3 linked regions of the Homo sapiens genome follow. Changing the gene in region 3 together with the main gene of any one other region gives a genetic interaction. Each region holds a gene or a part of one and is shown on either strand. Other genes may lie near its edges.

Evidence for each region.
Region 1: of ARHGEF12 (region 3) and GNA12, changing one enhances a phenotype caused by changing the other (phenotypic enhancement), as found in Homo sapiens cells (one study listed by BioGRID).
Region 2: of ARHGEF12 (region 3) and TEC, changing one enhances a phenotype caused by changing the other (phenotypic enhancement), as found in Homo sapiens cells (one study listed by BioGRID).

The regions. Positions count from the first base shown.
Region 1 is NC_000007.14:2,841,284-2,848,491, reverse strand, and holds the start of GNA12 (guanine nucleotide-binding protein subunit alpha-12), read left to right. Parts: upstream 1-4,183; 5' UTR 4,184-4,330; coding exon 4,331-4,639; intron 4,640-7,208. UniProt on the Homo sapiens protein: Guanine nucleotide-binding proteins (G proteins) are involved as modulators or transducers in various transmembrane signaling systems. Activates effector molecule RhoA by binding and activating RhoGEFs (ARHGEF12/LARG).
Region 2 is NC_000004.12:48,266,814-48,274,706, reverse strand, and holds the start of TEC (tyrosine-protein kinase Tec), read left to right. Parts: upstream 1-4,868; 5' UTR 4,869-4,955; intron 4,956-7,893.
Region 3 is NC_000011.10:120,486,394-120,490,447, reverse strand, and holds the end of ARHGEF12 (rho guanine nucleotide exchange factor 12), read right to left. Parts: 3' UTR 511-4,054; downstream 1-510. UniProt on the Homo sapiens protein: May play a role in the regulation of RhoA GTPase by guanine nucleotide-binding alpha-12 (GNA12) and alpha-13 (GNA13). Acts as guanine nucleotide exchange factor (GEF) for RhoA GTPase and may act as GTPase-activating protein (GAP) for GNA12 and GNA13.

The sequences.
Region 1 (7,208 bases), on a different chromosome or scaffold from region 3:
TCCCAGGTTTTAATTTTTAATATCATACCATACAAGGTATTGTCTTTATAGATTCTTCCCCAGCCTGCCACTATTATTCTAAATTTGCAATACCCGATTCCCAAAGCTCCACGATGATAATAATAACAATATGACCATTTACTGAGGGCCTGTTATGTGCTAAGGTCCAGTTCTAGGACCTTATCTGTATTAACTTATTTAAGGTGTAGTACAGCTTTATTTTCATCCTGATTTTACAGACAAGGAAACTACGTCTCAGAGATACTGTATGACTTGTTGAAGGTCACACAGCTGGTAGGTGATGGAGCCAAACTTCAAAGTTCTCATGTTTTTCTCCATCCTATTATACACAGAGAATGCTGTGTGTCAGACTTCCAGTTCGGGGTTTGCAGTGTACTAACCATACTTCCCTTGCCAGGAGAGCTTAGCCACCTGGATTCAGATACTGGTAAGGCAGTCACCTTTCCCCAGCAGTGTAGAGAGGGCAAATGAGATAATGCACCTGTAAGTACTTCAAAACTTTTAGCATGCCGTACAAACAGAAGGGATAATTAAGAGATTATTGTGGACTATGCAGATAACCTTGTTTATTTAAAGCACCTTAGCCCATTGACACGTGTGGAGATGTCCAGAGACCTGGTCAAATCCTCAAATCGAATATTGCCGACAGCAGAAGAATTTCTCCCATAAAATGCCATAATGTGTCATTTAAAAATGTAAGTAACTCTTGGCCAGGCCCGGTGGCTCACACCTGTAATCCCAGCACTTTGGGAGGGCGAGGCAGGTGGATCACTTGAGGTCAGGAGTTTGAGACCAGCCTGGCCAATGTGATAAAACCCCACCTCTTTTAAAATACAAAAATTGGCCAAGCATGGTGGTGTGTGCGTGTAATCCCAGCTACTCAGGAAGCTGAGGCAGGAGAATAGCTTGGACCTGGGAGGCAGAAGTTGTAGTGAGCCGAGATTGCACCACTGCACTCCAACCTGGGCAACAGAGCTGCATCACAAAAAAAAAAAAAAAAAAAAAAAAAAAGAAAAGTAAATAACTCTTTAAAATGTTTAATGATTACATAAACACAAGGCATAAAGCTATAAAGATTTAAAAAAAATAGAGACAGAGTCTTGTTCTGTTGTTCAGGCTGGTGTGCAGTGGTACAATCATAGCTCACTGCAGCCTCAAACTCCTGGACTCAAGCAACCCTCCCACCTCAGCCTCCCACCATACCTGGCTTATTTATAAGGATTTAAAGTTAGTTGTGAGTGCTGTCTGGAGCACTTGCTGAAACTGTTTTGTGAATCAGTTTTTCTTAATTTCTTAAAACTGAATGAGGAATAAACCCTGTGTGAACTGGATGAGCCAAAAACCTGTTCTGAATTCTAGTCCACTCTTTAGTGATTCAAAATTCCCTATTTCTGTCTCAGAAACATTGCTTTCTTTGGATTCTCCAATTTCTCCTCCCTTCTATTTCAATACTAGTGTTTGGCCTTTTTTTTTTTTTTCTTTTTTTTTTTTCTTTTTGAGACAGAGTCCTGCTCTGTTGCCCAGGCTGGAGTGCAGTGGTGTGATCGCAGCTCACTGCCACTTCAGCCTCCTGGGATCAAGCAATTCTCATGCCTCAGCCTCCTAAGTAACTGGAATTACAGGCGTTCACCACCATGCCTGGCTCATTTTGGTATTTCTAATAGAGATGGAGGTTTCACCATGTTGGCCAGGCTGGTCTCAAACTCCTGGCCTCAAGTGATCTGCCCACCTCAGCCTCACAAAGTGCTGGGATTACAGCCTCACAAAGTGCTGGGATTACATGGTGTGAGCTACCATGCCAGACCTAGTATTTGGCCTTCCCGTTTTTGTTTTTTTTTTTTTGTTTTTTTGAGGCAGAGTTTTGCTCTTGTTGCCCAGGCTGGAGTGCAATGGTGCGATCTCGGCTCACTGCAACCTCCGCCTCCCGGGTTCAATCAATTCTCCTATCTCAGCCTCCCCAGTAGCTGGGATTACAGGCGCCCGCCACCACACCCAACCAAGTTTTGTATTTTTTAGTAGCGACAGGGTTTCGCCATGTTGGCCAGGCTGGTCCTGAACTCCTGACCTTAGATAATCTGCCTGCCTTGGCCTCCCAAAGTGCTGGGATTACAGGCATGAGCCACCGTGCCCAGCCATATTTGGCCTCCTATGGGAGGTCATTTCCACAAACAAGCAAGACTTTCTAATCATTTTCCAAGGATTACAAAATCTTGACTCATAAGTGATACAAATTCATGGCATGATTTGTAGTATTTGTAGCAAGTGACAAATAATACATATTATGTGCATTCAAGGTTGTCAGGGAGTTGGTTTTTGTTTTGTTTTGTTTCTGAAACAGGGTCTTGCTCCGTTGTCCAGGCTGGAGTACAGTGGCACGATCATAGGTCACTGCACCCTTGACCTCCTGGGCTCAAGTGATCCTCCCACCTCAGCATCTCAAACTGCTGGGACTGTAGTTGTGAGTCACCGTGCCCAGCCTTCTGGGGAGTTTAGATCTGTGACTAAGCAAAAAGAACAAATCTGGAGGCATCACTTTACCTGACTTCAAACTATACTATAAGGCTATCGTCACAAAAACAGCATGGTACTAATATAAAAATAGGCACAGAGACCAATGGAACATAATAGAGAACCCAGAAATGAAGCCAAATACTTACAGCCAACTGATCTTCAACAAAGCAAATGAAAACAAAGTGGGGAAAGGACAGCCTATTCAGCAAATGGTGCTGAGATAATTGGCAAGCCACATGTAGAAGAATAAAACTGGATCCTCGTCTCTCACGTTATACAAAAATCAACTCAGGATAGATCAAAGACTTAAATCTACAACCTGAAACCATAAACATTCTAGAAGATAACATCGGAAACATCCTTCTAGACGTTGGCTTAGGCAAAGACTTTGTGACCAAGAACCCAAAAGCAAATGCAACAAAAACAAAGATAAATAGATGGGACTTAATTAAACTAAAAAGCTTCGGCACTGCAAAAGAAATAATCAGCAGAGTTAACAGACACCGCACAGAGATTGGACTTTGGGGACTCAGGGTAAAAGGTGGGGGGTGGCGAGAGATAAAAGACTACACACTGGGCCAGGCGCGGCGGCTCACGCCTTTAATCTTAAGGGATACCTGAGCTCCTTCTAGGAGGTTCTGATTCAGTAGATCTGGGAGAGTCAAGAATCTGTAATCAGCTGATCTCTATCAAGAGCTGATTTTGGGCTAGCTCACGTGCTAAGTGTTTGGTAAGTTCATGTTCTCAGTTTATATCTTCATGACGATTTGAGCAATGTCAAGCCATAACCAATGTCGTCAATGACACCCCCGTTTTACAGATGAGGAAACGGAAGCTAAGAACATCCAAAAGGGTTTGTTGGGGGGGGTGGGGAAAGCTGCTAAAAAAAGTTATGCAACTAGTACACCTAGTAACTGGTCGACTGGAGATTCCAACTCAGGCCCAGCAACTCCAGACCCCACTCTCTCAATCACTGTGAGACATAAGACTTTTGGGGGAGCTTCTGGTGATTTTAGTGATTAGTCAGCTTTTCGCAAAGCCTCCTAGAAGCCCATGCCACTCTCAAAGGGTGCATGTGTTTGAAATTTATGGCCCATCCCCCTCCAGTGTTTCTGGAAGGAAAATAGTGTAGAAACAAGATCATCGGAGGGAATACGACGAGCAGCTGAACCTCTTATCAGCATTTCCCAGCCTTTGGGCTACTCCGCGAGGTCCTGGTCTCACAGGCGGACCCAATCTGGGAACCAAGGGAGAATCTTTCTGTACACCTGGCACTTCTCGTCACGCCCCGTCCCCCGAACACCCAATCCAAAGCCCGTTGGGCACGTCTGATGTCCACTCAGAGCAATTATAATTGGCCATGGCGGACGATCGCTCCGCCTCCCGGGCGACCCCGCCTCCCTTTCATTCTGAAAGAAAGAACCTCAGCCTGGGCGTCCAATGAGAAGCGCCTTCACCTCAAAGATCCCGCCTCTTTCGGCGTCGACCCCGCCCCGAGGCCGGAAGGGATGCCCGCCTCCCTTGGCGAGATGAGCCAATCGAAGGGCTCTCACGGCCAGATGGACGGCAGCCGGCCCAATCCGCCGGGCCTCACGCGGCGCCGCCCGCCCCTCCGCCGGGCCCGAGTGGCGGCCGGGCGACGAGTGCGGGCCTCGGAGCGACTGCAGCGGCGGCGGCGGACGCGGCCTGAGGCGAGCGGCGGGGCGTGGGGCGGTGCCTCGGCCCGGGCTCGCCCTCGCCGGCGGGAGCGTCCATGGCCCCCGGGCGCCGGCGGGGCGCGGCCGCGGCCTGAGGGGCCATGTCCGGGGTGGTGCGGACCCTCAGCCGCTGCCTGCTGCCGGCCGAGGCCGGCGGGGCCCGCGAGCGCAGGGCGGGCAGCGGCGCGCGCGACGCGGAGCGCGAGGCCCGGAGGCGTAGCCGCGACATCGACGCGCTGCTGGCCCGCGAGCGGCGCGCGGTCCGGCGCCTGGTGAAGATCCTGCTGCTGGGCGCGGGCGAGAGCGGCAAGTCCACGTTCCTCAAGCAGATGCGCATCATCCACGGCCGCGAGTTCGACCAGAAGGCGCTGCTGGAGTTCCGCGACACCATCTTCGACAACATCCTCAAGGTGACGCGCGCCCCCCGCCCAGCACCTGCACCCAGGTGGGCCGGGGCGCTAACCCCCGCCCCGGGCCCCTCCGTGGTCCGCCGCCGCGGGCGGGGACCCCTGGGGCGAGGATGCTGGATCCAGCCCCGCCTGCACCCCACTCCCCCCCGACCCATTCCCCGAGGCCTGCTGGCGTCGTCTCTGCCCCACCCCGTCTCGCCCTTTTTGAGATGGGGTCTCGCTGTGTTTCCCAGGCTTGAGTGCAGTGGCGCCCTCACAGCTCACTGCAGCCTCGACCTCCCAGGCTCAAGCCCTACTCCCTCCTTAGCCTCCCGAAGTAGTGGGATTACAGGCGCGCACCACCAGCCCAGCTAATTTTTAAGTTTTTTTTTGTAGAGATGGGGTCTTGCTGTGTTGCCCAGGCTGGTCTCAGTCTCCTGGCCTCAAGTGATCCTCCTGCCTTGGTCTCCCTCAAGTGCTGGGATTATAGGCATGAGTCATGGCGCCCGGTCTGCCTCTGCCCTCTCTAGGGTGCCTGGGGACCGTGGGAGTGGGAACTCGGGCCAGCTTCTGGGGATGGGGAGTGGGGGCTTGGCACTTAGCCCCCTCCTGGATGTGCCCTAGCAGAATGGTATCTGTCCATTTCCCACTGGAAGATTTGTGGGATAGGAGCCCAACCGGCCGTGCCCTCCGGCTGAGCTTAGAAGAAGAGCAGTGGAGACTGGACGGGAACCAGCCATGAGTCTCTTTTTACTTTTCTGTTTTTTTAGAAAGGCTCTCACTCTCTTGCCCAGGCTGGTCTCAAGCCATCCTCCCACCTGGGCCTCCCAAAGTGCTGAGATTACAGGTGTGAGCCACACTTTCTAATACGAAAACTTCAAATGTATACAAAAGTAGAGAAAATAGTAGATTGACTGTAAAGTACCTACAGCCCAACTAAAGCAGTCATCAATTCTGTGCCAATCCTATTCACCTGTGCCCTCCCCATGGTCTCCAAGCAAATCCAACTTTGTGTAGTTGGATTAGGAAACGTTTTAGGATGTATATGAGTGGCTAAAAGATGAGGCCTCCATGTAAAAACACAACCGCAGTACCATTAGCAAACCTAAACATTAGTAATAGCTCATTATCACCAGATATCCAGTGTTCAGAATTCCTCCATTGTGGCATAATTGTTTTGTGTGACTCGACATGCATTGCAATGAATCTCCAGATTCTCCTGTCTCTTGCTTCCTTTTTTCTCTTCGCCATATTTGTGAAAGAAGCTGTAGAAGTCGGCCAGGTGTGATGGCTCGTGCCTGTAATCCCTGCACTTTGGGAAGCTGAGGCAGGAGGATCACTTGAGGCCAGAAGTTTGAGACCAACCTGGGCAACACAGCAAGACCTCAGTGCCACAAAAATGAACACATTAGTTGGGCATGGTGGAATGCACCTGTAGTCCCAGTTGCTTGAGCGGCTGAGGTAGGAGAATTGGTTGAGCCTGGGAGGTTGAGGCTGCAGTGAGCCATGTTTGGGCCACTGCACTCCAGCCTGAGTGGCAGTGAAAAAAAATAAAAGAACCATAGAGTTGATAAAGTCGGGGTTCCAGTCTCTCAGTACCGTGAGCCTGTGTTAAAGGGCCTCAAGGAAGATCTGGAGGAAACTGATGATGAGGGAACAGTGCAGCCTTGCTTACACCTAGATAGCGTCCTTTGTCCTCCCTCCCTTTTTCCTTCCTTCCTTTCCTTCTTTTCTTTCCTTCCTTTCTTTTCTTCCTCCCTTCCCTTCCTTCCTTTCCTTCCTTTCCTTCCCGCCTTCCTTTTCTTCCTTTCTTTCTACCTTCCTTCCTTTTTTCTTTTCTTCCTTCCTCCCTTCCTTTCTCCCTCCCTCCCTACCTCTCTACCCTTTCCTTGTCCCCTCACCACTTTTTCCCCAGCCCATTTTGGGGAAACCAAGTTAGAGGCGAGGACAATCATCTCAAAGCAGAGTCGGAGAGAAGTTTGCCATGCCAGAAAACCTGCCTGGAGACTAGGTTTTATGGTGCCTGGGAGATTTTAAATTTAGCAAAGCCCCGTAGAAACCTATCGGGTACATTTGTATCACTTACCCATAAGGACTCCTGCCTCAGCCCTAGAGATGAAGTGACTCCTTCCTGGGGTCTCTGTGCTGGAATCCTGGCCTCCAGACTTCCAGGCCAGTATTCGCACTTGACATACTTCTCATGGAAATGTTTCATTTTAATAGAGCTCCTTTAGGATTGTGAAGGGAAGAAAATAATTTGATAAAACACCCTTTTTCATTTTACCTCTTTCCAAGCCTCTCGGTGCGTCAGAGCTCTGGTCAGATACTTCGTGAACTTTGAAGACTAGGTGCCCAGCTTAGCTCACTGGGAGCGTCTGTGTTCAAGTGCATTTGGCTGTCTCAGGGCCTGCCCTGTAACTTCTCTGTTAAAGATCCTGATTTTATTGTTGCTGCTTGCCCAGACCTCAGAACCAGGCAGGCATAAAAGTATAGCAGTTTGACTGTCTCTAGTTTCTTCCAACTCAGTAGATGGAGAAAGTATTTGGAAACATAGAATCTGAAATCTAAATCCCTGTATGAAGTGCGTGTT
Region 2 (7,893 bases), on a different chromosome or scaffold from region 3:
ATTCTTACTTTTCAGTTTTCCTCCACATAATTTGTATTTAGTTGCAATTACAGGTACTCAAAGCATTGTGTTCTACTTTTAAAAATATAATCTTGTTCATAAGTTTTATTTCCTATCTCTTTTTCATTAACATAGGTAATCTTATTTTATTATTTAATTAATTAATTAACTTATTTAGAGACAGGTTCTTGCTCTGTTGCCCAGGTTGGAGTGCAGTGGCACGATCTCAGCTCACTGCAACCCTGCCCTCCTGGGCTCAAGCAATCCTCCTACCTCAGCCTCCCGAATAGCTGGGACTGCAGGTGAGCACCACCAAGCCTGGCTAATATTTGTATTTTTAGTAGAGATGGAGTTTCGCCATGTTGTCCAGGCTGGTCTTGAACTCCAGAGCTCAAAAGATCCACCCGCCTCAGCCTCCCAAAGTGCTGGGATTATAGGTGTGAGCCACCATGCCTGACCAACATAGGTAATTTTAAATGACAGCTTGACATTCCATACTGTTAATATATTTTACTTAAACATTTCCTTATTATTGGACATTTATTTTATTATTATAATGATCTTATAAATATACTTTGCATATGATGCTTTTTATTTCTTTTGAATTATTTATTTAGCATCTCTTCCCAGAAATATGATTATTGATTCTGTGTCCAATATTTGAAACTCCTTCCTTCTATGCAATAGTTCTAAAGAAGCAACTACTTTCAGCACATGATGGAAGGAGAAGCAGACATATCATAGGATCACAATGAAGTCATCTTCATGTAGGAACAGACTCTCCATGGAAGACTGATAAGGTCTGCATTATCGTCATTGTCATCATCATTTATTCATCAACAAATGTATTAATTATCTATGATGGGCCAGTTTCCTTTTCAGTAGGAAGATGGTTACAAAATAAAACCAGTGACTTGCACAAAAGAATGCAAGAAGCTGGCCGGGCATGCTGGCTCATGCCTGTAATCTCAGCACTTTGGGAGGCTGAGGCGGGCGGATCACAAGGTCAGGAGTTCAAGACCAGCCTGGTCAACATGGTAAAACCCCATCTCTACTAAAAATACAAAAATTAGCCAGGCGTGGTGGCAGGCACCTGTAATCCCAGCTACTCAGGAGGCTGAGGCAGGAGAATTGCTTGAACCCAGGAGGCAGAGGTTTCAGTTAGCCGAGATTGTGCCACTGCACTCCAGCCTGGGCAACAGAACAAGACTCTGTCTCAGAAAAAAAAAAAAAAGGCAAGAAGCTATAAATACAAATATATACACACATATATTTTTGCAAACCTTCCAGGTTGATTCTGCATGTCTTCTTCTGTACCATGTGGAATCTACATGTAAGTTAAAAAGAGGCATTTTCGTCTCTCAAGGAACTGAAATTATGTCAACCTGATACTGATCATCTAAACAAATAAACTTTATGGAAGCCATAGCGATATCTTGTAAGAAGGGAGAGTCTTGTCTCCCAAGAAGTTTATATTAATACCTTTTTCTCTGTATCTTGATTTTCTTAAAATAAAGATGGTTTTACTAATATTGTTTGAGTCTTCTTTTTGGAGGCAGGGGGAGAAATCTTTTTAAGTCAACTACTAGATTCCTTCTTTTGACTAGGGACGAATGTAAAAGTTTGAATTATACAGGCCCAAATGTAGTATTCTGTTTTCACCTAAAAAATAAAAATTAAAGAAAGACTAAATCTTTTTTATTAATCCCACCACATTCTGAGTTCAGTTTTTACACCTTTTCCTTAATGTAGTTGAAGTTCCCTAATGGCCTCTTTTTTTTGTCTGTCTCTCTGTCTCTTTCTCAACACCTTGCTGAAAAAAATTGCCATTGTTCTCTATTATGTGATCTATGGATGGTATACCTGTGGCAATTGCCTACTTAAACTGTATGATTGATAGTGTAACAAATGTCTTATTTAGAAAACTATAACTTTATGAAAATTACCCCAACTATTAAGAATTATGTTGGATCTAGGTGTTTTATTTACAGATCTGTTCTCTTTGGCTTTTCTGAGAGTTAGTAGGGACAATACAGACACTTTTCTCTCTTTTAATTTAAACTTTATGAAGAAATTATGTAAGGGTCTGGGTTTTCTGCCTTTTCAAACTTCATAAACATTGAGATCCTCATTACCATTGTCAAGAATATGAGCTACCATCACCTACCAAGAACAGGCAAGGCGAATTGGAAACTGGTTCTTCTAACCATCATAATATCAGTTAATTCCTTAAGGCAGTAGCTCTTACCTTTTTGGGATCAGTCAATATGATAAAAGTTCTAAGTCCTCTCACTTAAAAATATACGTACATAAGCATTTTTCTTGGGAGAAAATTAACTGTATTACTATAATTATATATCTATAACTCTCTTTCCTGCCCCCCAACACAGTTTTTTTGCATAGAGTTTCAGATGGTTTATGGTCCTGTCCCCTCAAAGTACATCTGTGCTAGGGGAAATTACGTTAACTAGCCAAAACAAGTACCTGAATGGGACAAGAGGCAGGAGAGACTCGGGTAGGGAGGAGAGAGTAGATCATAAAAAAGAAATTTTACTAGATTCATTCAAAGTACTAGTCATTATACTCAAAGTCCTCACTGGAGAGAGGATTTGTAATCAGAAGGCCTTGGTCCAAATCTGTGCCCTCTTCCCATCTCCCCTTTTCCTAGATAGTTGTCTGACTTTTGGAAAGTCATTGAAACCTCTCTGACCCTCAGTTGTTGTTGCTGTTATTGTTTTCCCTGTTAAATCAGGGTTCCCCAACCCGCAGGCTGTGGACCAGTACCGGTCTGAGGTCTGTTAGGAACCTGGCCGCATAGCAGGAGGTAAGCGGTTGAGCGGTGGGCAAGGGAGCAAAGCTTCATCTGTATTTACAGCCACTCCCCATTGCCTGCATTACGGCTGAGCTCCGCCTCCTGTCAGATCAGCCTTGGCCTTAGATTCTCTCAGGAGTGCAAACCCTAGTGTGAACTGTGCATTCGAGGGATCTAGGTGGTGTACGCGTTACGAGAATCTAATGCCTGATGATCTGAGGTGGAACAGTTTCATCCTCAAACCATCTCTTCCTGACACCTGTCCATGGAAAAATTATCTTCCATAAAACCAGTCCCTGGTGCCAAAAAGGTTGGGGACCACTGTATTAAATGGAATCTTGTTAGACTTCTCAGGGTTATTACAGTGATCAAAGGAGAAATGATATAGGAAGGCACTACTTTTAAGTCCCAAGCAAGCATGAGGTGTGATAAGTATCAAAGCACTTGCCATTCCCTTAGCTTCAGCCTTGGGTTGGCCGTCTGTCCTATCATTCAGGTCTCAGCTCCACTGTTACCCCAGAGAAGCCTCCAGTAACATCATATCTAAAGTAGCCTCCCTCTCCCTTTCACTCTCAATTCCATCACCCTGCTTTATTTTAGTCAAGACACCTCACTTACGAAGTGGTTTAATTTTTTGCTTGCCTGTTGATCATGTGAGACAAGTAACAAACGTTAAGAAGCCATGCTTGCTCATTTCTGCTTGTCAGCATAATTTCACACAGCCCCTGACTCTGTGACCACCTGCAGCTGGCGGAAAGATGCTTTGAAGACAAAACGAGATAGAACACAGGATCCCCCACGTCTCTTGCCTGAGCCCTTGCCTTTTACTGCACCTAAGATAAAGTCTGATGAGGTTAGTGATTATGCTTCTGTAATCTATAAACAGATGTACTCTTAAGCCCAAACTGTGATGTGCTTTTACACATACTGAATCTTCACCAACTGTTTCTAAATTGAGAAGGGAAGTTCTGTGTTGGAGGGATCTGCTTGAATCTCTCTAAAAGACTCCTCCAGGGCTGTAGGCCTCCATCTCTAGTCCTCAGTAAGACTTCTGAATAAAACTAACTTTCATTCTTTAACAGCTTGATTTTTAAATTTTAGTCGACAATCACTTATTGTCTTTCTCCTACAGTAGAATAAAAGTTTCCTAATGGCAGAGTCCTTGCCTCATCTTCCCCAGGCATGGGAACAGTTCCTGGTATAGGATGCACACAGATTTTGCTGATTCAGGATAGCCGTGAATAACAGTGGAGACTCCAGAGGAGGAAGACCTGGATTTGAAGCCCAGCTTCTCAACCCAGCTTCTCAATTTACTAGTTGGGTGACATTAGGCAAGTTATTTAGCTTCTCTCTGCCTCACTTGCACCGTATGTGAAAAGGGGGATTCTGATAATATACGCTTCAGAGAACTTTTAGTACATGTGAAGTACCTAGAACAGTGCCTGGCACACAGTTAAGTCTTACATGTGTTTTCTACTCTTCAGTGAGTTTAATGTTAACACATTAATAGTGCACGTGACCCTCTAAGTGTATCAGATATGCACTGCTCCCTCGGGTTTCACAGGAAAACCACTTACTCTTTTGGTAAAACAGGCTGCATGGCTCCACTGCTCCGCGTCACCCGCCTGGCCTCCCACCGCTTAGCGGAAGGGGAGGTGCGGTTCCTAATTCCGACAGGCACGTAGTCTTCCACAAGTGGCACTACTCGGGGCTCTCCTGGCTAGGGGCGTTCGAGCCACTAGGGGCGGGTCTCCTGGGATGGGAAGACTGGGGCTAGGGAGGTTCAACGCCGCCCCCGGAAACCTAAGGGACGCTCCCTGAAACTCACCGGGACGCGCTTCCGACCCATTCCGGTCACTTGCCTTGAAATCGCCGCAGGGCTGCGCAAACCTGCCACCCAGGGCCCAAGCGACCGGGGCGGGGCGATCGAGGACTGGGCGGGCCTGCAGGATCAGAGGCGGGGTAGGGCGTCCACGGGGCCAGCAATCGGGGCGGGGCGGGGTGATTGGGGGCGGGACGGGGAGATCAGAGGGCGGGGCGGGGCGCTTTGCTCTGGACTCTGGGGCGCTAGGCTCCGGACTCCGCGGCGCAGACTGCACCTCGCAGTCTCCCCAGGTCCGCCCAGCAGCCGCGCTTCAGCCAGGTAAGGGCGCCGCGGGCGGGCTGGGGCGGCCCCGGGAGTGCGATACTCCGGGCGAGGACGGGTGGGGAGGGGGATGAGCGCGGCAAGAGGCGGCTTCCACACGCCCCTCGAGGAACGGGGAAGGATTTTCTCCCCTCCGTGCCGCAGTGAGCGCGGGTGCGCCGTCTCTGGGTCCCCTCTTCGGTCCGGGAAGGAGGGACAGGTGCGCGCAGTGGCGCAGCCTCGCCTTCCTGCCGGCAGTAGATTCTCCACTTCTCCAACTCCCGCACTGACCTCTCCTAAGGAACACCCGCCCCTTTTTCTTGAAGTTCCAGGCCTGAGGCCGCCCTGCGGCAAGTTCAGCGTTGGGGTCACGTCCCAGCGGCGAGCAGGGCTGATGCCTCCTTTCGGGTTGGGCGGCGGCGCGATCTTGATTGAAATTTGGCAGTGTCGAGATAGATATACCTAATGTAAATGACAAGTTAATGGGTGCAGCACACCAACATGGCACATGTATACATATGTAACAAACCTGCACGTTGTGCACATGTATCCTAGAACTTAAAGTATTAAAAAAAAAATTTGGCAGTATCGGCCAAGATGTTCCGCAGTTGCACGTGACTCACCCAGTGAAGTTCACGTTCTCTTCCCCACCCCCCCAATACCCCGCCCACCTCGCCCCGGGAAGTTGTGTTTGAATATTGAAAACAGGTGCCCGGCCAATGTATGTACTTCTTGGAAAAACTAGGGCCTTGACCTGGGAGTGTACACTTTCCTAATTTTCTTTAATCCTAAATTTCTTGTGGATTTTATTTTATTTTATTTTTCCCGTGGACGTGTAACATGGTGGTGTGTACCAGGTTTGGAAACAATCTCATCCATTGCTATTCTTTGGAAACTGGAATATTTGATTCGAAAGATTGATCTTAATGTTAACTTGGAACAACAGGATGGCTGGTGGCTAAGTGGGTTTGAAGATTATCCAAAATAGTTATAAGTTTTGCGCGTATTCCTTGTATTTTTCCAGTGAATGCTCATTTTCCTCTTGGGAAATTCTGAGAATTTACTCACTTCTAGATTATTCTCTGCTAAAGAGCTGGGAAGAAACAAACCAGCGGATCTCCCAAATAAAGTTTGGGATTTAACAGTTTAGGTCGTGACACTGGTAGCTGCTTACTCTGCAATAATCACCTGGAGTAAGGGATATTAAGATTTATTTCTAAGGGGAAAATAGAAGTATGGGTAACTTTCACATTATGTATTTGAAAGTATTTTTTAGTTTAGTTACATTTTCAATGTTTACGGAAGACTTACACTTTCCCCATACTCCAGTTAATCTGATCCATATATTACACTCTTGCCAACGCAGATGCTTACTGTGGTGTGTTTATGTTAATGATCTTGACTCTTCTCACAAGGGTGTGTACATTCTGGTCTGTGGAACTGTATAGGCCAAGTGTAAACTCATGCAGTCAGTGCTTTACTCTAGTTGGCAATACCTTTGCCCCACATAGGTCCAACTAGAATTTTCACATCTTCCCAACTAGGAAAGGATATAGAATATTAATGTATGCTCTAGCATTTTCAACCTACTTTATTCTTTATCAAGATAATCATGTTTTCTCAGCAGCTAGTTACTCAAGGGCAGCAGCTATGTTTTACCAAACCGTGGAAAATAAAGCTGAGATAATGGTAACCTTTGCTTCCTTAAGTTGACCCTTGATAGGGAGGTTGGAAGGGTTGTGAGCAGTGTCTGGCCTACTTTTACGCTTGGGGAAGAATTACTGGCCTCTCTGCCTTTCTCCGGGTATCCAGAGTGCTGGGAGACAGGGCCTTGGGCCTCCAGCCACACCTCTGCCTACAGGTTCCTCCAGGTTGACCAGGTTGGTGCCTCTCCTCCCTGCCCCAGCTGTTCCAGCTCCTTAGCTTCCACCCCACCCCTCCCAGATTCTTACCCCTAGACAAATCACCATGTTGTTCAGGGCAGGGGTACTTGGTCTGCAGAGTCAGCATGAGTGTTGATCTTCAGCATGGTGCTGGTTCCCCGTGGATGCTCCTTGGATGTCTGCTGCTTCAGAGCCTTTATTATGCTCCCTTCTTGTCCAGTCTACAGCAGGCAAAGTGGAGTTACTGAAGTCAAACCCAGATCAACAGTCTTGGGGGCCAGCTGCCTTGGTTGGACTAATTACGATCATAAATTGGGCATTCAAGTCTGTTGGAAAAAAGTGAAATTGGCTCATGGTCACTGGCAATTGTAAAATTATCCTGTACGATGTGGTTATGCTATTATAAAAGGTTTGTGGAAAAATAAGAAACAACCCAGAAGGAAGGGGCCTAGTAGTTGCCTCCACCTCCAAACACGCCTGTGCTTGGGCTTGCCTTATTGTCACTACCCCAGCTCAACCAATTCTTCTGGGATTGGATTGTAACAATTAATTTCCCCACCATGTTTGACTGCTCAGAGCTCAGATGACCGCAGCTACTGTAGTATAGATGTAGAGAATTACATACTCTTTTGTTTAGAGAAACAAGGATGGGCTTTTTCAAAACAGATTGTTATTAGGGAAACAAAGAAAAAGCAAACAAATGTAAAAATGTGTGGGCACAGAAGCCAAAGTTTGTTTTGTTATGGTTTATAGTTTTAAACTTTTATCCAAGTTACATTTCTCCCTTTCCAGAAACAACCACTTGTAATTCTTTGCCATTTGTGGCTTATAGTTGATACTTCTTGATTTTTCAATTTTAAGCATTATCTGTTGACTTCCCACTGTGGAAGATGATGAGTTGGCTCTCTTTTTCCCTCCAACCCCCAACGCAAGTACAGCTTCCCTATTTTCCCATTCTTGCAGTCGTTAAAACAGAATATTGAATAATGGTTAGATCAAAATTCACAGCTAAGCCAAGCATAACTTTTTTTTCGTTTTTTTTTTTTTTGAGACAGAGTTTTGCTCTTGTTGCC
Region 3 (4,054 bases):
AGTGTTTTTGATTAGCATGTGTTCAGGCAGCCACAACCCTCTGATCACACGTACAAAGAAAAAGATCCCTTAAAATAAAATGCCTTAAATTACAGGTCGGTCCAAAAGCACTCTAATCAATTGAGGGGGAAAATCTAGAAAGAGAGCTCTACATACCTTAAATGATCTCAAACCAAGGCCTCTGCTGATGCTAAGGGAATGATGATGTCTCACTAGTAAAAATAAGTGGCAAAACAAACATATTCCCTGACAGCTAAAGTTGAGGAAGTGTTTCCAATTAGTAACAAGAATTATCCTTGACATTATAGAGAAAATGGGAAACACCTACATCCAGCTACTTATCTCTCATGCTTTATGACATTTGTCATAAAACATCAAGGAGATAACGAGTTCAATTAAAAAGCAACTTTTTAATCAGGATAGATCCTCTTATATTTGAAGTTGGTAATAAACCTTTGGTAAACCAGTCATTTAGCTTGAAAGAGGGCAGTAAAAAATAGAAGTAACTGCTCACATGCAAATACAGAGTTTTATTGTCTCCATTCCTAGGAGGTGGCTATCAAAGAGCAAGTGGGAATGGTACAGGTATTTCTTTGTTCCACCAGATATGTATCTGTATCTGTATCTATATATATAGATATAGATATATGTTTGTAAACAAAGCCAGGCATACAAACAGGTTAATTTCCGCAAAGTACATTTGAATAGTCTTAATCTTTAAAATGTTTAACTAAAAGATGGTATAAACTACTAAGCATTTTATTACGCTTATTAGCTCCGTCAGCCAAATGTGCCCTTGAATGACTGAAAACTAAAATATTATCCCAAGAATAAGTCAAATTACAAGTATTTCAAAACCAAAATACAGCAAATGCCCAAAGTAAGCGAGCCTTCTGAGCTAAAATGCTGTTGGTAAAAGCACAGAAATGTTGGTATGTGAAGAAGCCCAGCACTGGGGACAGGAAAAATAGAGGCATATGCTTCATTTAGGGTAGGATTAAAACCAAAGTTATCTTCAGGTGCGTCATAAAAGCTGGCCTACCTCACTGAACTTTATACTTAAAAATAGTTACAATAGCAAATTTTGTTATATATATATTTCACCACAATTAAAAATCAATAATATACCAAAACCCATCTGATTATACACTTTAAATGGATGAATTATATGATATGTGAATATCTCAATAAAGCTATTAAAAAAACAACAAACCTGCCCCACATGCTAGGGCAAGCCCACCTGCCAGCACTGTCATGAAGGTTTAGCCTTGTTGCTAGGGATGCTCTAATAAGCAGGAAGATGTCTGACAGTCACTGACAGGAAAATTAATTACAGGCTCCTCGACTCCTCAACTTTTCTAATATAACTTGGACAAGACAAATCAACCAGAATACAAATAAAAAGTCACATGCTTGGTTCCTTTAAGCTTATTTAATATTTGAAATCTTATTTTCTATTTTCCCAGACCCCAGAAAACAGAAAGTTTTTAGATGACCAATATTTTGTTCCAGAAACATACAGCCTTATCAGCTAATTCATAAAAGAGCTATTTTACAAAGGTACATCTGGATAATTAGAACAATAAAGTCTTTTAGGCATTTCAAAATGTGATCAGTAAAAATACATGATTATTAATAAAGTTTTTTTAAAGATAGTTCCAGATATTTTTTAAAAGCAATTTCTGTTAAAGAGTACATGATTGTATGGTGAACAAGGAAAATAAAATGTTCTAGTAGGAAGAGGCTTATTAAAAATAACCAACAGTGTGCACATGACAGTTACCATTTTTGGAATATATCTGCTTAGCAGTTGGCACCTGGAAATGGTGGGGAAGGCTTCCTTCTAGGAGGTACTTTTTTTTCCTACCAATTTATTATCAAAACCCTCAATACCAGTGGGGAAGGCATAAGGAATAAGGCAAAAGGAACTCTTTTCTTGAGGAAAGAAAAATTTTGTAGATGACTCTGAAAAGTGGTGGAAATATCAGGAAAAAAATGACTTATAAAACAAAAATTGTAATATAAGGGGGAAAAACTAGCCATGAGGAAGCTGACTGTGAGGCCCTGCTAATTTTGTATTTTGAGGTCCTATGCACGCAGTTCTCAGTGGTGCCCTCTGTGACATATAGGGAAGGAAATACTGACCAAAGCTCTAGTAATTCAAAACCATATATCGACTTCAGAGAAGAAAGCTTCCACTTTGAAATATGGAAGCCCCACGTATTACACCAAATTTACTAACATCAAAGAGGAAAACAAAGATGCCAGTAAAAGACAATTCACAGGAAGCATAATTACTTTCTTTAGCTTCTAAAAATAATTTTTAAATGGACTTCTCTATTATCCCTCCTAACTCAAAATCAAATAAACAACAACAACAACAACTTTTTAAAAAGGGGATTCATCCTTCATTGGCAGTTGCTGTGGGAAAAAAGAAAGCCAAAAAGCTCATAAAATATACCTCCCATGAAATACAATACATAGTTACAATTTCGGTTCTAAAAGCCAATGTAATTCAAGCAGTCCAAGTTAGGTGATTTTAAAGTATGCAAAATATATAGCTTCGAAGGTGGTAATCATGATGTTAAATTACAGCACTTTGGGGGCTTGCTGATTTGCCTTGATTAACTGTTCTCTGAAAAGGAAGGAGACACTCTACATGTAATTTGCCACTTCATAGCAAAGGAACCATTAAGCCCACAGAAGAGAGCACAGTGTCACAGCAGGTCACTTCCATAGCTAAAATGCAGCCTGCTTGCTCTGGGAAGGTAGCTTTCTTTGTACACCACCCCTGTGCCCTTTAGCAGGGAAGTAGATTTCAACTTCTAGTCACGTCACTTAGAAAAAACTCCTCTGATGGTGACCAGTCTCACTCAAAGACAGACTGCATCTAATTCCATCATCCTGAAAGGAAGATGTCACAACCAAAGTCAAACGGATGTGACTATAATGGCCAAAATGAAATGGAACGTGTGGGAGGCCAAGTTGGGAGGGAAAAGAGAAGTTAGGTCGGTAAGATAAAAAGAACATTCAAAAATTGTGAGATATTTTCAGAATTAGACTTCATCTTGGGGCTTTGTTTGAAAATCTAGATATGAATTTATTTGGAAGTACTAGAGCTATGGTCAAAGTATTTTTCCAGTTAGTCCTGTTAGAGTTCCAAGGAGAAATTGAACTGCAGGGAAAGCAAATAATTACTAAGGACAAGACACTGGCTGAACTAGAGAAACTGAAATTTTGCTAACCTACAAGCTTCTTAATTGAGTGCTAGAGAATTACATAATTACCCTGTAGTGTGTGACGTTAAGAGCAAAGTTTTTATATTTACTTTTCTCCTGATTAATTGCCCTCGATGGTGTTAGTGTCAAGTGGCTACAGGTGTAACCCTTTTAATTGAGAATGACATTATTTCTAGCAGCACAATGTAACCATTTGGTTTTTACTTGTTCCTCCTAAGAGATACAGAAAGTTCCAAATCCCAAACTTCATTTATATATTAGCTTCTGCTTCTAAAATTTTTAATCCCATTCTGAGTTAGATTGTACTTGGCTTATGACTAAAAATATAATTTCAATTTATAGATGAGGTCTAAAGATCCAAGTTGATCCACCTAAAAACACAGATCAATTTAGGACAGAAACAGAAATCTGGACATAGATAAATAAACTTGTTAAGTTGCAGTGGTGTTTATAAAAGTAGGTGGGCATCCCTTACCATTTGTGGTGAAAAAATCATCTTTGGACTGCAGGGAAGCATTAAAATTACATCCTAGCAACCCACAGAGTTCAGAGGGCACCAATGAAAGATGTGAGCAACGGATGAACTCCTTGTTTATTAACAGAATTTACAGACTTCATTTTAGTTGGCAAAAATACTTCAAAAAATATATACCTAATGCACAAGGAAAACCAAAGAAAGTCAATATAATTGAAGGAGTTCTCAAATTACAATTCTGAAACTTACCCTCTGTAGGGTGCTGCTAACGCTACTATTCATCCTAGAGCAGGCAGTTACCAACACCTTGCCTGCAGTGTCCAGTGTATGTGCTGGTCTG